3 linked regions of the Homo sapiens genome follow. The protein of the gene in region 1 purifies or fractionates together with the protein of each later gene. This does not show direct contact. Each region holds a gene or a part of one and is shown in the gene's direction. Other genes may lie near its edges.

Evidence for each region.
Region 2: the proteins of ZDHHC7 (region 1) and CKM purify together in Homo sapiens (affinity purification with mass spectrometry; 3 studies listed by BioGRID and IntAct, with this or other methods). This does not show direct contact.
Region 3: the proteins of ZDHHC7 (region 1) and NDFIP1 purify together in Homo sapiens (affinity purification with mass spectrometry; 2 studies listed by BioGRID and IntAct, with this or other methods). This does not show direct contact.

What each region holds. Positions count from the first base shown.
Region 1 is NC_000016.10:85,009,925-85,013,524, reverse strand, and holds the start of ZDHHC7 (palmitoyltransferase ZDHHC7), read left to right. Parts: upstream 1-1,989; 5' UTR 1,990-2,239; exon of another isoform or gene 2,240-2,419; intron 2,420-3,600.
Region 2 is NC_000019.10:45,321,038-45,324,858, reverse strand, and holds the start of CKM (creatine kinase M-type), read left to right. Parts: upstream 1-1,983; 5' UTR 1,984-2,038; intron 2,039-3,821. UniProt on the Homo sapiens protein: Reversibly catalyzes the transfer of phosphate between ATP and various phosphogens (e.g. creatine phosphate).
Region 3 is NC_000005.10:142,125,635-142,129,455, forward strand, and holds part of NDFIP1 (NEDD4 family-interacting protein 1), read left to right. Parts: intron 1-3,821. UniProt on the Homo sapiens protein: Activates HECT domain-containing E3 ubiquitin-protein ligases, including NEDD4 and ITCH, and consequently modulates the stability of their targets. As a result, controls many cellular processes.

The sequences.
Region 1 (3,600 bases):
ATGCCTACAATCCCAGCACTTTGGGAGGCCAAGGTGGGTGGATCACTTGCAGTCAGGAGTTCAAGACCAGCCTGGCCAACATGGCAAAACCCTATCTTTACTAAAAATACAAAAATTAGCCGGACGTGGTGGCGGGCCCCTGTAATTCCAGCTACTCAGGAGGTTGAGGCAGGAGAATTGCTTAAACCCCGGAAGTGGAGGTTACAGTGAGCTGAGATTGCACCACTGCACTCCAGCCTGGGAGACAGAGCGAGACTCCATCTCAAAGTAAAATAATAATAATAATAATAAAAGAACAATACTTTTGTAGAGAAATGACAGGACAAAGGAGTTTTGAGCTTCCAAAAGTGGCAAACTATGGAAAGGTTTATATATGGGAAGAAACTTAATAGAGTAAGGTTTGTTTGCAGATTCCTTTGGTGCCCTCTCTGGGCTAAGAAGAGTCTAGAATGTCCAGTAAAGGTGAATTTACACCTGCCCTTTAGGCAGAAAAGGGAGGATAAAGAGAACTTTTCCTGCATTTGTCGCTTCTTAATTGCCTTCAGCTGAAAATAATTTTTCTGTCGAAGAGGCATATTTTGCGGTGATATATTCTGGTTTTTTCTTTTTCTTTTTTCATTGAGATGGAGTCTCGCTGTCACCCAGGTTGGAGTGCAATGGCGCGATCTCGGCCCACTGCAACCTCTGCCTCCCGGTTCTCAAGCGGTTTCTCCTGCCTCAGCCTCCCGAGTAGCTGAGATTACAGGCGCCCAAAACTGCACCCGGCTAATTTTTGTATTTTTAGTAGAGATGGGGTTTCGCCACGTTGACCAGGATAGTTTCGAACTCCTGACCTCAGGTGATCTGCCTGCCTCGGCCTCCTACAAGTGCTGGGATTACAGATGTGAGCCACCACACCTGGCCTTATTCTGGTTTTCTTTAGGTGTCTTCATTGAACAAGTAGGTATTGTCTGGCATACCCTTCTGGGTTATCTCGTCTTATGGGGTCTTACTTTTGTCTTTAAGCTATCTAGAGCTCTAGTGGAGCATTGTATATATACCATCATTAATGAGTTAAATGGTATCTTTGACATATGTTCATTTTATATTTGTGTGAGAGTCATAATTTTATTTTAAAAAAAAGATATGCTTTTTTTTTTTTTTTGAGACTGTTCACTCTGTCGCCCAGGCTGGAGTGCAGTGGCTTGATCTCAGCTCACTGCAACCTTCGCCTCCTGGGTTCATGATTCTCCTGCCTCAGCCTCTCGAGTAGCTGCTGGGATTACAGGCGTGCACCACTACATCCGGCTAATTTATGTGTTTTTAATAGAAACGGAATTTCACCATTGTTGTTCAGGCTGGTCTCGAACTCCTGACCTCAAGTGATCAGCCTGCCTTGGCTTCCCAAAGTGCTGGAGTTACAGGCGTGAGCCACCGCGCCCGGCCTTAAAATACATGTTCCTACTTTCAAACACTTAGGGCTTCCTATATGGAAGGGACAGTGGCGGTGCTCTAGTGTCCAAGTCCCTCAAGGAGGAGGCCGGGGGCTCCGCGGACCTCAGGAGTCAGGCCTCCAATCCCCAGTTCAGGGCGCTTTCCTCTTTTCCCAAGTGCTTTCTGGCTCAGCCATTTCCACTCCCGCTCCCTTACTTTCCCATTTCCTTCGGTCACATCCCCGCATATAGTACAGGCCACTGGAGCTGCCTCTGAGACACCGCCGCGGGCGCGGGTACACACTCCGCTAAGGGCATTCCCAACCCGGTTCCGCAGCCTAACGGCGTGGCTTGGACCCTGCTGCAGCCCGTAGCCCCTATCCTTTCTCCTCCGGACTTCAGTTTGGCGGCATCTCTGTCTTAGCGAGAGGGGCTGTGACTAAAAGCTGCCTTTTCTCAATGAACTGCCAGTTTGTAAGAGCCTCCGGGTCCCCTCAAACCGCCTCGAGCGCCCCTCTCCGCGAGAGCTGCGCGGCCGGAACTGCGCCGGCGTGACGTCACTGACCTCGTCGGGTTCACTTCCGGCGCTCGCACCGCCCCGCTCTCCAGCCAAGGCTCCGGGCTGAGGCATTTGCTTGGCTGCAGCCTCCTTCCGACCTGCCCGGCGGGACCCAGGGGACCAAGCCGAGCCGAGCCGCGGGGCCCGCTCCAGCCCGGCCATGAGCGCGGCCGCATGATGCGTCCCTGCCTCGGCCGCTGCAGTCGCCGCCGCCGCCGCCGCAGGCCGGGAGGAGCCGCAGCGCCGGGCGACCCCGCCCGGGCCTCGGGTGAGTGCGGCGGGCTGGGCCGGGCGGGCTGCTCACTCCCGGGTCTCCCGGCCACTTCTGGCCCCCGGCGTGCCCTGTCCTTCCGTCGGTTCCGCCGCTCTGTCTCCACCCCGCCGCACACCTGCGACCTTCTGGAGTTCCTAGGGGCACCTCCGTGCCCGCACCTGACTTCCCTTCCAGGTGCCCCCTTGTCATTCCTTAGTTGCTCTCTCGGGATAGGGCCCGGATTGCAGCCCCAGCTTTTTGCCTGACCTTGGGCGTGACACTCAGCTCTCCGAGCCCTGGTTTTCTGTGTGGCTAATGACGGGGTGGTGGTTACAGAGCAGCTATAAACCCTGTGTAAGCTGTAAAGAGTTTTTTAATAGGCAGGTATTACAATGAGCAGTCTCGCACTTCGCGTTGTGGCTTCTCTTCCTCTTAAGCTGTAAACTTTTCTCTTTTATTCTCTGCCCATCTTCCTAGTTATCTTCCCTCCTGCTCCACGTCAGTCATCTTTGGGTGTTAGTTGCCTGAAAGGGCATCTGGGACAGTAAAGCTTTCAGGGCAGTAAGGCTCACCTCTCCTGGTGTGGTTCCTTCTACAACTTTGTCACACTCAGTTAGATAGACACACTTTATTAGCTTATGAAGAACCAGTTTATTGTGGCCGTTAAATTGGAGTGTAAGAGACAGTGTTGATGCGGCTACCTGCCTTGTAGCTTCTTTTACTGTCTGGGCTGTATACAGTGCTGGGCAAATCGCTGCTACAGTGTTGCATTTTCAGTCTGCTTAGTGTATGCACTTAAGCGCACGTATTTATCTATTTTACTGTTACTATCCCAAGGGGTTTAGAGATTTAGGTCAATGTGTATTAATATTTCTTTCTGAACTCTTCATCTCACAGATGAAGAATCTCTTTTTTGTTATGTTTTACAGTGTTTACATACCTGAAATCACCTTTTAGTCACTTTGTGGCCTGGTACGCACGCGGTGGCTCGTGGCTCATGCCTGTAATCCCAGCGCTTTGGGAGGCTGAGGCAGGAGGATCACTTGAGCCCAGGAGTTGGAGAGCAGCCTGGGCAACATAGTGAGATCCCCTTCTCTACAAAAAAATTAAAAAATTAGCCGGATATGGTGGTACACGCCTGAGGTCTCAGCTGCTTGGGAGGCTGAGGTGGGGGGATCACTTGAGTTTGAGATCATGCCACAGCACTGCAGCCTGGGCAACAGAGTGAGATCCCCATCTCAAAAAAAAAAAAAAAGTCACTTTGTTAAATTCGCTTGTTAAAAGTCAGAACTTGGCCAGGCACAGTGGCTCATGCCTGTGATCCCAGCACTTTGGGAGGCCGAGGCGGGCGGATCACGAAGTCGGGAGATCGAGAC
Region 2 (3,821 bases), on another chromosome or scaffold:
GTAGAGATGGGGTTTCACCATGTTGGCCAGGCTGGTCTTGAACTCCTGGCCTCAAGTGATCCACCCGCCTCCGCCTCTGCCTCCCAAAGTGCTGGGATTACGGGCCTGAGCCACTGTGCCCGGCCCATCTAACATTTTCACTGTCAATCACAATGGGATTAAAACTCCTCCCACAGCCCCTAGGGCACCATGGGTCTGCTCCTGTCTCCCCTCCAACCTCATCTTCTTCCTCCCACTCTCTCCTTGGCCCCATCTGCTCCAGTCCCCTGGCCTCCTTCCTGTCTGTCCTCAGATGTGCCCAGCCATTCTCACCTCAGCGCCTTTGCACCTGCTGTTCCCCCCAGAGCCGCACATGGCTGGCTCCCTGTTCTCCTTCAGGTCTCTGCTCAGATGTCATCTTCCCAAAGAGGCCTGCCTCGACCTCCCCTGCTGCTGTGCCGTCCCCTCATCTGTGACCCTCTTGCACTATCACCTCCAGGACGGCGGGGGTTTTGTGTTTTGTTGTAGCCTCAGGAAGTGCCTGATAGATCCCTGTTTCGAGACCAGTTCCATTTGGTTTTCTGGGCCTCAGTTTCCGTAACCGTGAAGGAGACCCTCGGCAATCTGAGCTTGCTGGGAAAGGGCTGGGCCCCATGTAAATATTTCTAAAGCACCCCTCTCCCCTCCCCCCTCAGATCAGGAGTCTGAGGGAGAGGCACAGAGGCTCCCTTTCTCTAAGCCAGTCCTCACCTGCCTAAGAAGATGTGAAGGAGACCCAGGAGACCCTGGGATAGGGAGGAACTCAGAGGGAAGGGACATTCTTTTCTTCGTCGCAATCCTGGGAGCTCCCTGGAGGAGGAGACCCGATCAGCCTGCAATCCTGGCGCGTCCCAGGAGGAGAAAGCGGCTTCCTCTATACTGTACTCTCCTCCACAGAACCCCCCTCTCAGCCCTGGAAGTCCTTGCTCACAGCCGAGGCGCCGAGAGCGCTTGCTCTGCCCAGATCTGCGCGAGTCTGGCGCCCGCGCTCTGAACGGCGTCGCTGCCCAGCCCCCTTCCCCGGGAGGTGGGAGCGGCCACCCAGGGCCCCGTGGCTGCCCTTGTAAGGAGGCGAGGCCCGAGGACACCCGAGACGCCCGGTTATAATTAACCAGGACACGTGGCGAACCCCCCTCCAACACCTGCCCCCGAACCCCCCCATACCCAGCGCCTCGGGTCTCGGCCTTTGCGGCAGAGGAGACAGCAAAGCGCCCTCTAAAAATAACTCCTTTCCCGGCGACCGAGACCCTCCCTGTCCCCCGCACAGCGGAAATCTCCCAGTGGCACCGAGGGGGCGAGGGTTAAGTGGGGGGGAGGGTGACCACCGCCTCCCACCCTTGCCCTGAGTTTGAATCTCTCCAACTCAGCCAGCCTCAGTTTCCCCTCCACTCAGTCCCTAGGAGGAAGGGGCGCCCAAGCGCGGGTTTCTGGGGTTAGACTGCCCTCCATTGCAATTGGTCCTTCTCCCGGCCTCTGCTTCCTCCAGCTCACAGGGTATCTGCTCCTCCTGGAGCCACACCTTGGTTCCCCGAGGTGCCGCTGGGACTCGGGTAGGGGTGAGGGCCCAGGGGGCACAGGGGGAGCCGAGGGCCACAGGAAGGGCTGGTGGCTGAAGGAGACTCAGGGGCCAGGGGACGGTGGCTTCTACGTGCTTGGGACGTTCCCAGCCACCGTCCCATGTTCCCGGCGGGGGGCCAGCTGTCCCCACCGCCAGCCCAACTCAGCACTTGGTCAGGGTATCAGCTTGGTGGGGGGGCGTGAGCCCAGCCCCTGGGGCGGCTCAGCCCATACAAGGCCATGGGGCTGGGCGCAAAGCATGCCTGGGTTCAGGGTGGGTATGGTGCGGGAGCAGGGAGGTGAGAGGCTCAGCTGCCCTCCAGAACTCCTCCCTGGGGACAACCCCTCCCAGCCAATAGCACAGCCTAGGTCCCCCTATATAAGGCCACGGCTGCTGGCCCTTCCTTTGGGTCAGTGTCACCTCCAGGATACAGACAGCCCCCCTTCAGCCCAGCCCAGCCAGGTACTGCACGGGGCGGGAATCTGGGTGGGGGCCAGAGTAGGGGATTTCTGTGGGTGCTAGAGGCTTGGCTTGGGAAAGGGTCTGTGTGTCACCCCTTGCTCCACCAACATCCTCCTATACAAAGGCAGGTCGGTGCGTGGGAAGGTTGACCCTTGTGTGTCTGGGAGGCCCCTCCATCTGTGAGGCTGCCTGAACCCCCCACTGGGACCTGTGATTTCTGCGGCACAAGTCTTGGGTTATGGGGAGGGATCCGAGATGAAAGGGGTCCTGACAGCTGCCAACTGTCACCCCCTGCAAGGGGCTGTTGAGCCAGGCCTGTGTTCATTACAGTTTGTCGCCAACACTGGCGCCACAAGCCGTGGGAGGTGTGTCTGTCGCCTAGCAGAGTCTGCAAGAGCAGGTGTCGCAGGCTTTCTTTGCGTTTGCTACTGTGTGGGTCCCTGTGACCTTGTTTCTGACTTAGTAGCGGACACATGAGTGTCCTGGGCATGTCCTTGAGTTTGGAAGTGTGACTGTGTGACTTAGTTTACAGTGTGATCTGGGGAGTCTGCGGTGGTGGGGGTGTGTGGCTCTGGGGCTTTCTGCTTATGTCTCTTGTGGGGGGGGTCACCACCCTGCCTCAGTGCCCTCTCCTGGGGTGTCCCTGGCAGGGATTAGGGGGGCATCCTCTGAAGGGAGGGGGTCTGGGCTGCCATCCCAGGATGTCCTTGAGCCCCGAGGCCTGGACCCGTGTCCTCCCAGCCACCCTGGCCCACCTGTCTTGGGCCTGCTGACTTGGTGCAAGCCGAGCCCCGGAATGTGGGGGTGGGGCGGGGCAGCAGCTGGGGGTGGGATGGCAGGCAGTTGCCAGATTCTAAAAATAACCACCCTGGACAGCAGCACCCAAGGTCTTTGGCGGGTCCCTGTTCCTCTTCCCTGGCTTCAGCTCACCGTGGTCCCAATCTCCCTCCCACAATCCCACCTGCTTCCCATCCCCGTCTCCCACCGCTGCTGGAGGCCCCTTCTCCTTTCTGGGTCCCTTCTCCTTTCTGGGTCCAGTGAATAAAATAATAATAACAGTAGGACCTGGCGCAGTGGCTCACACGCATAATCCCAGCATCTTGGGAGGCCGATGCTGGAGGATCACTTGAGGCCAGGAGTCCCAGACCAGCCTGGGCAACATAGTGAGACCCCATCTCTGCAAAAAAGTAGTAATAACAAATAACAATAATAGCAGCCACCAGGGTTCCAGGCTCCAACTCCATGCCAGGGCCTGTGCTCAGCCAACCTCATGGCCAAGCTCAGAGGATCCTGGCAATCCTACGGGGCAGGCTCAGTTCACAGGAGACAGAGGTCCAGAGAGGCCTAGTGACTGGCCTGGGGTCACACAGCAGGGAAATGGCATAGGTGGGATTTGAACCTGCCTCTGACGACCCAGAGGCTGAGCTTTTCTTCCCTTCTGAGCCCTGTGGGAGAACTGTCAGCAGGCAGAGGTGGGGGCAGCTACCCAGCCCTCCCCCGACCCAGCCCTTTGTCTTTGGATTGATAATCCAAGAACCTGCTCACATACTCCCAGCAGCACCCTCACCTCCACCTTCTCACCAGCTCCTCGCACGAACCTTTAAAATAACAACAACAGGCCAGGTGCCGTGACTCATGCCTGTAATCTCAGCACTTTGGGAGGCAGAGGTGGGCGGATCACTTGAGTTCAGGAGTTCAAGACCAGCCTGGCCAACATGGCGAAACCCCAACTCTACTAAAAATACCAAAAAAAAAAATAGCCAGGTGTGGCACACGCCTGTAG
Region 3 (3,821 bases), on another chromosome or scaffold:
CAGGCTGAGCCACTGTGTTTTCAGCCTATGTTTAACTTATTTTGAGGAACTGCCAAACTTTTCCACAGCAGCTGTACCATTTTACATTCCCACCAGCAGTGTATTAGAGTTCCCGTTTCTCCACATACTCAGCACTTGTTATTGTCTGTCTTTTTTATTATAGCCATCCTAGTAAGCATGAAGTGGTATTGAGTCTTGGTTTTGATTTGCGTTTTCCTGCTGACTTAATGATGTTGAGCATTTTGTGTCTACTGGCCTTTTGTATATCTTCTTTGGAGAAATGTCTGTTCAAATCATTTGCCCATTTTATAATTGGGTTGCCTTTTTATTGTTTAGTCTCTCTTATCTTGTCAGAATTATTTAAAATATCTTCCCCTAATTAATAACAATTAGATAGAGAATTTTTCTTGAATGTAAATAATTTGGTGATGTTAGAATAACAGAGTTTATATTTACAATATATAAAGTAAATGTACAGGCCACACAAACTTAATGATTATTTCTGAACAGCAGTAAAATAGCATACTCAGCTGTTTACCAAAAGAAATGTGCTTGTTTACTTTTTGTAATTATACTGCCTTGTTTTGGTAGGATTTAGGGACTATGCAGAAGTAGTGGGTTGGTAATGAGAGCTTTAAAAATTGCATTTTAAGGTAAAAGTTTTAGCAATTAACTCTAAGATAGAAGTAGTAAATAACATTCAAAACTAGAGTTCAAGCATTGACCCAGAATTTTCTGATATTTATTTTTAATAACTTAAAGAAGGGACTTGAAACTTACAAGAATTTTCTTGCTGTTTAAATATGACCAAACCAAGAAAAAATTAAGTAGTGAAAATACTTGCAACTTTATGGACTTACTGGATACTTCAGCATTATTTTTCACGTGCTTTGTTTGTTTGTTTGTATGAATTCTGAGGTGTATGTTGATACCTTTTCTCATATATAAGGATTTATGGGTTTTGTTTAGTGTAGGGTTTTTTGTTGTTCTCTCATTCTTAGTAAATATAGATAATCCAAGAATGACTTTTAAGTGCCTTTAGGTCCTGCCATTTGCTACAGTTATAAATGTTGCCCCTTGCTTAGCCCTAATCCTAGCCCCAGCTCTGCTATTGCTTAAAAACAACTCATTTTAGAACTGCTTAGTGAGGAGGGCGGTGGTGAAGCTTTCTTGCTGATTGGGAACTCAAATAATAGTTTAAATCTGTAGGGTATAATGTCTTAAACGTGTTAAATTCAAGTTTGTTTCTATTAGAATTAGAACTATATATGATTTCTGTGTTGGAGATTCATAAAAATGTCATATTTATTTTTAATAACAATAGGACCTAGATACAGAGGAAGGTGATAAGGAGGGAAAAAAAAACGCTCTATTTTATTTTATTTATTTATTTATTTTTGAGACAGAATCTCACTTTGTCGCCCAGGCTGAAGTGCAGTGGCTTGATCTCAGCTTACTGTAACCTCCACCTCCCCGGATCAAGTGATTCTCGTGCCTAAGCCTCCCGAGTAGTTGGGACTACAGGTGCATGCCACCACACCTGGTTGATTTTTGTATTTTTAGTAGAGACGAGATTTTACCATGTTGGCCAGGCTGGTCTCAAACTCCTGACCTCAAGTGATCCGCCCACCTCAGCCTCCCAAAGTGCTGGGATTACAGGTGTGACTTGAGAACAAAACCTTAGTAGCACCTATTTGTAAATAAATGTTTTCTTAAAATTGAAGGTCATCAAGGCCAAAGGCACCATGGCAGATTGTGACATATCTGAAGTAGGAAGAGTTTTAGGGTTCTTCTGGGGAGCCATTCTAGTCTGCTCAGCACATAGAAGGGAGCAAAGGTAATCAGGAAAAGAGTAATGGCACACTCTGGGTGTGAGAAAGTGAAAGGTCATCTGAATTCTCAGGTGATTGGATTATTTATTTCTTAGCGATGGAGGCATAGGTAGTTATAGGTAGTTCTGTATTAAACTCTACTTTGTATGGCCTGTGTAGGTAATTGTATAGCTGTATTTGGAAAAAATGCCATTTAAATCATATTTCAGCCGGGTATGGTGGCTCACGCCTATAATCCCAGCGCTTTGGGAGGCTGAGGCAGGCGGATCACTTGAGGTCAGGAGTTTGGTACCAACCTGGCCAACATGGCACAACCCCATCTCTACTAAAAATACAAAAATTAGCCAGGTATGGTGGTGCATGCCTGTAATCCCAACTACTTGGGAGGCTGAGGCGGAAGAATCACTTGAACCCAGGAGGCAGAGGTTGCAGTGAGCCAAGATGGTACCACTGCACTCCAGCCTGGGTGACAGAGTGAGATTCTGTCTCAAAAAAATAAATCATATTTGAAGTTTAGTAAAATTGGTCAGAAATTATATGACAGGAAAAAAAATCCAGTGTCCAACAGCTATTTATTATCTATCACAGTCACTCAAAGGATATCCCCCCTACCCTTGCCCAACATCTCTGTGCACTGAGAGCAGAAGTTCCCAGATCTGTCCCAGTTTTCAGATCTGTCTCTCTGAGTATCCCCTACAACCCAGATTCTGTGACAGTTAAATTGGACTCGGGCTTCCACTGACCCAGTTGATGGAAGAGACTGAGCATCTTTCCAACTCTAACCCAAACGTGACAATGCCGCGTATTCTTTCAGAAAGTGTCAGGAAAGAGCCCGAAGATCCCTGAGCTCCAGGGACATGGCAGGGAGGCTGCACAGAAGGGTTCCCAGGGGTGGAAAAGGGGAATCTTAAAAATAAATTTTGGAACCAAGTAATCAATTTTATAGCACACTCTAGTTCTAGCGCACATGGTTCCTCCACTTGTTAGTGAATGCCTGACTTGTTGCCCCTGAAGTGTAAAAAGATGTATATTTAAGGATTCCATTGTTCAGCAAGTTATTATGCATGCAGATGGCAGGCACTAAGTGCTTACTCTTTTTGAAGGTGATTGCCTCTCCCCGCGATCCCCCTACATTGCAGTGTTTTGTTTTAAACAGCTTTCTTGATGGAGCCTAATCTTATCACCAGCATTATAGAAATAAGCCAGAGTGAGAAGCCTGTACAGTGAGGTCTTGGGATTATACCATAGTCATAATGGTGTTTTAAATTGTTTTTATTTTTCAATTGAAAAAAGTACACTATTCTAAAGTAGTGAATTTTAGTGGAGCAAACTCTTCACCTGGAAGTGTTTTTTTCCTTACCAAAGTGAAAATTGGTGGTTCTAAGAAGGCTGGAATTTATTTGCACTGTCATCTTTTACTATGGTGGGGGATGATCAAATTTAACATTTCCAAGTTTCCAGGAGACAGGCAGCCTATCTTATAAATATTGTCATAGAAGACCTCTTAACCTCTTTGTTCTTTGGATTTCTGTATTTCTTAGAATTGTCATGCTTCCTTTCTGAGACCTAAATTATGCAGGGGTAACGTGATTACTTTGACACCAAGCTCAGGAAATATAAAACGGGTTAAGTATAAACCAAGCTAGGTTTAAATGAAGTTCATTACTGGCTACAGTATATTAAGGGAACATATTCGAAAAGTCTGTATTTGCCTTTGTTCTTGCTGCTGACTCTTCTGCTTCTTTTGGTGACCTTCCCACAGCACAAGAGTGGTTAGGTGTGAGGAGGCTAAGAATACCTTGCCAAGAGCTTCAAATAATGTTAAAACCAGTATTTTAGGTGAACCATGGTCCCAAGAACTCTATTTAAGTAATTCCTAGTTCGGTGTCCCAGGAGCATTTGGCTTTACTGCACCTATTTTGGCCACATGTCTTTGTTTAAAAGGAAAAATTATCTTAGGTTATAATACAGCTATTTTGGGAGTACCTT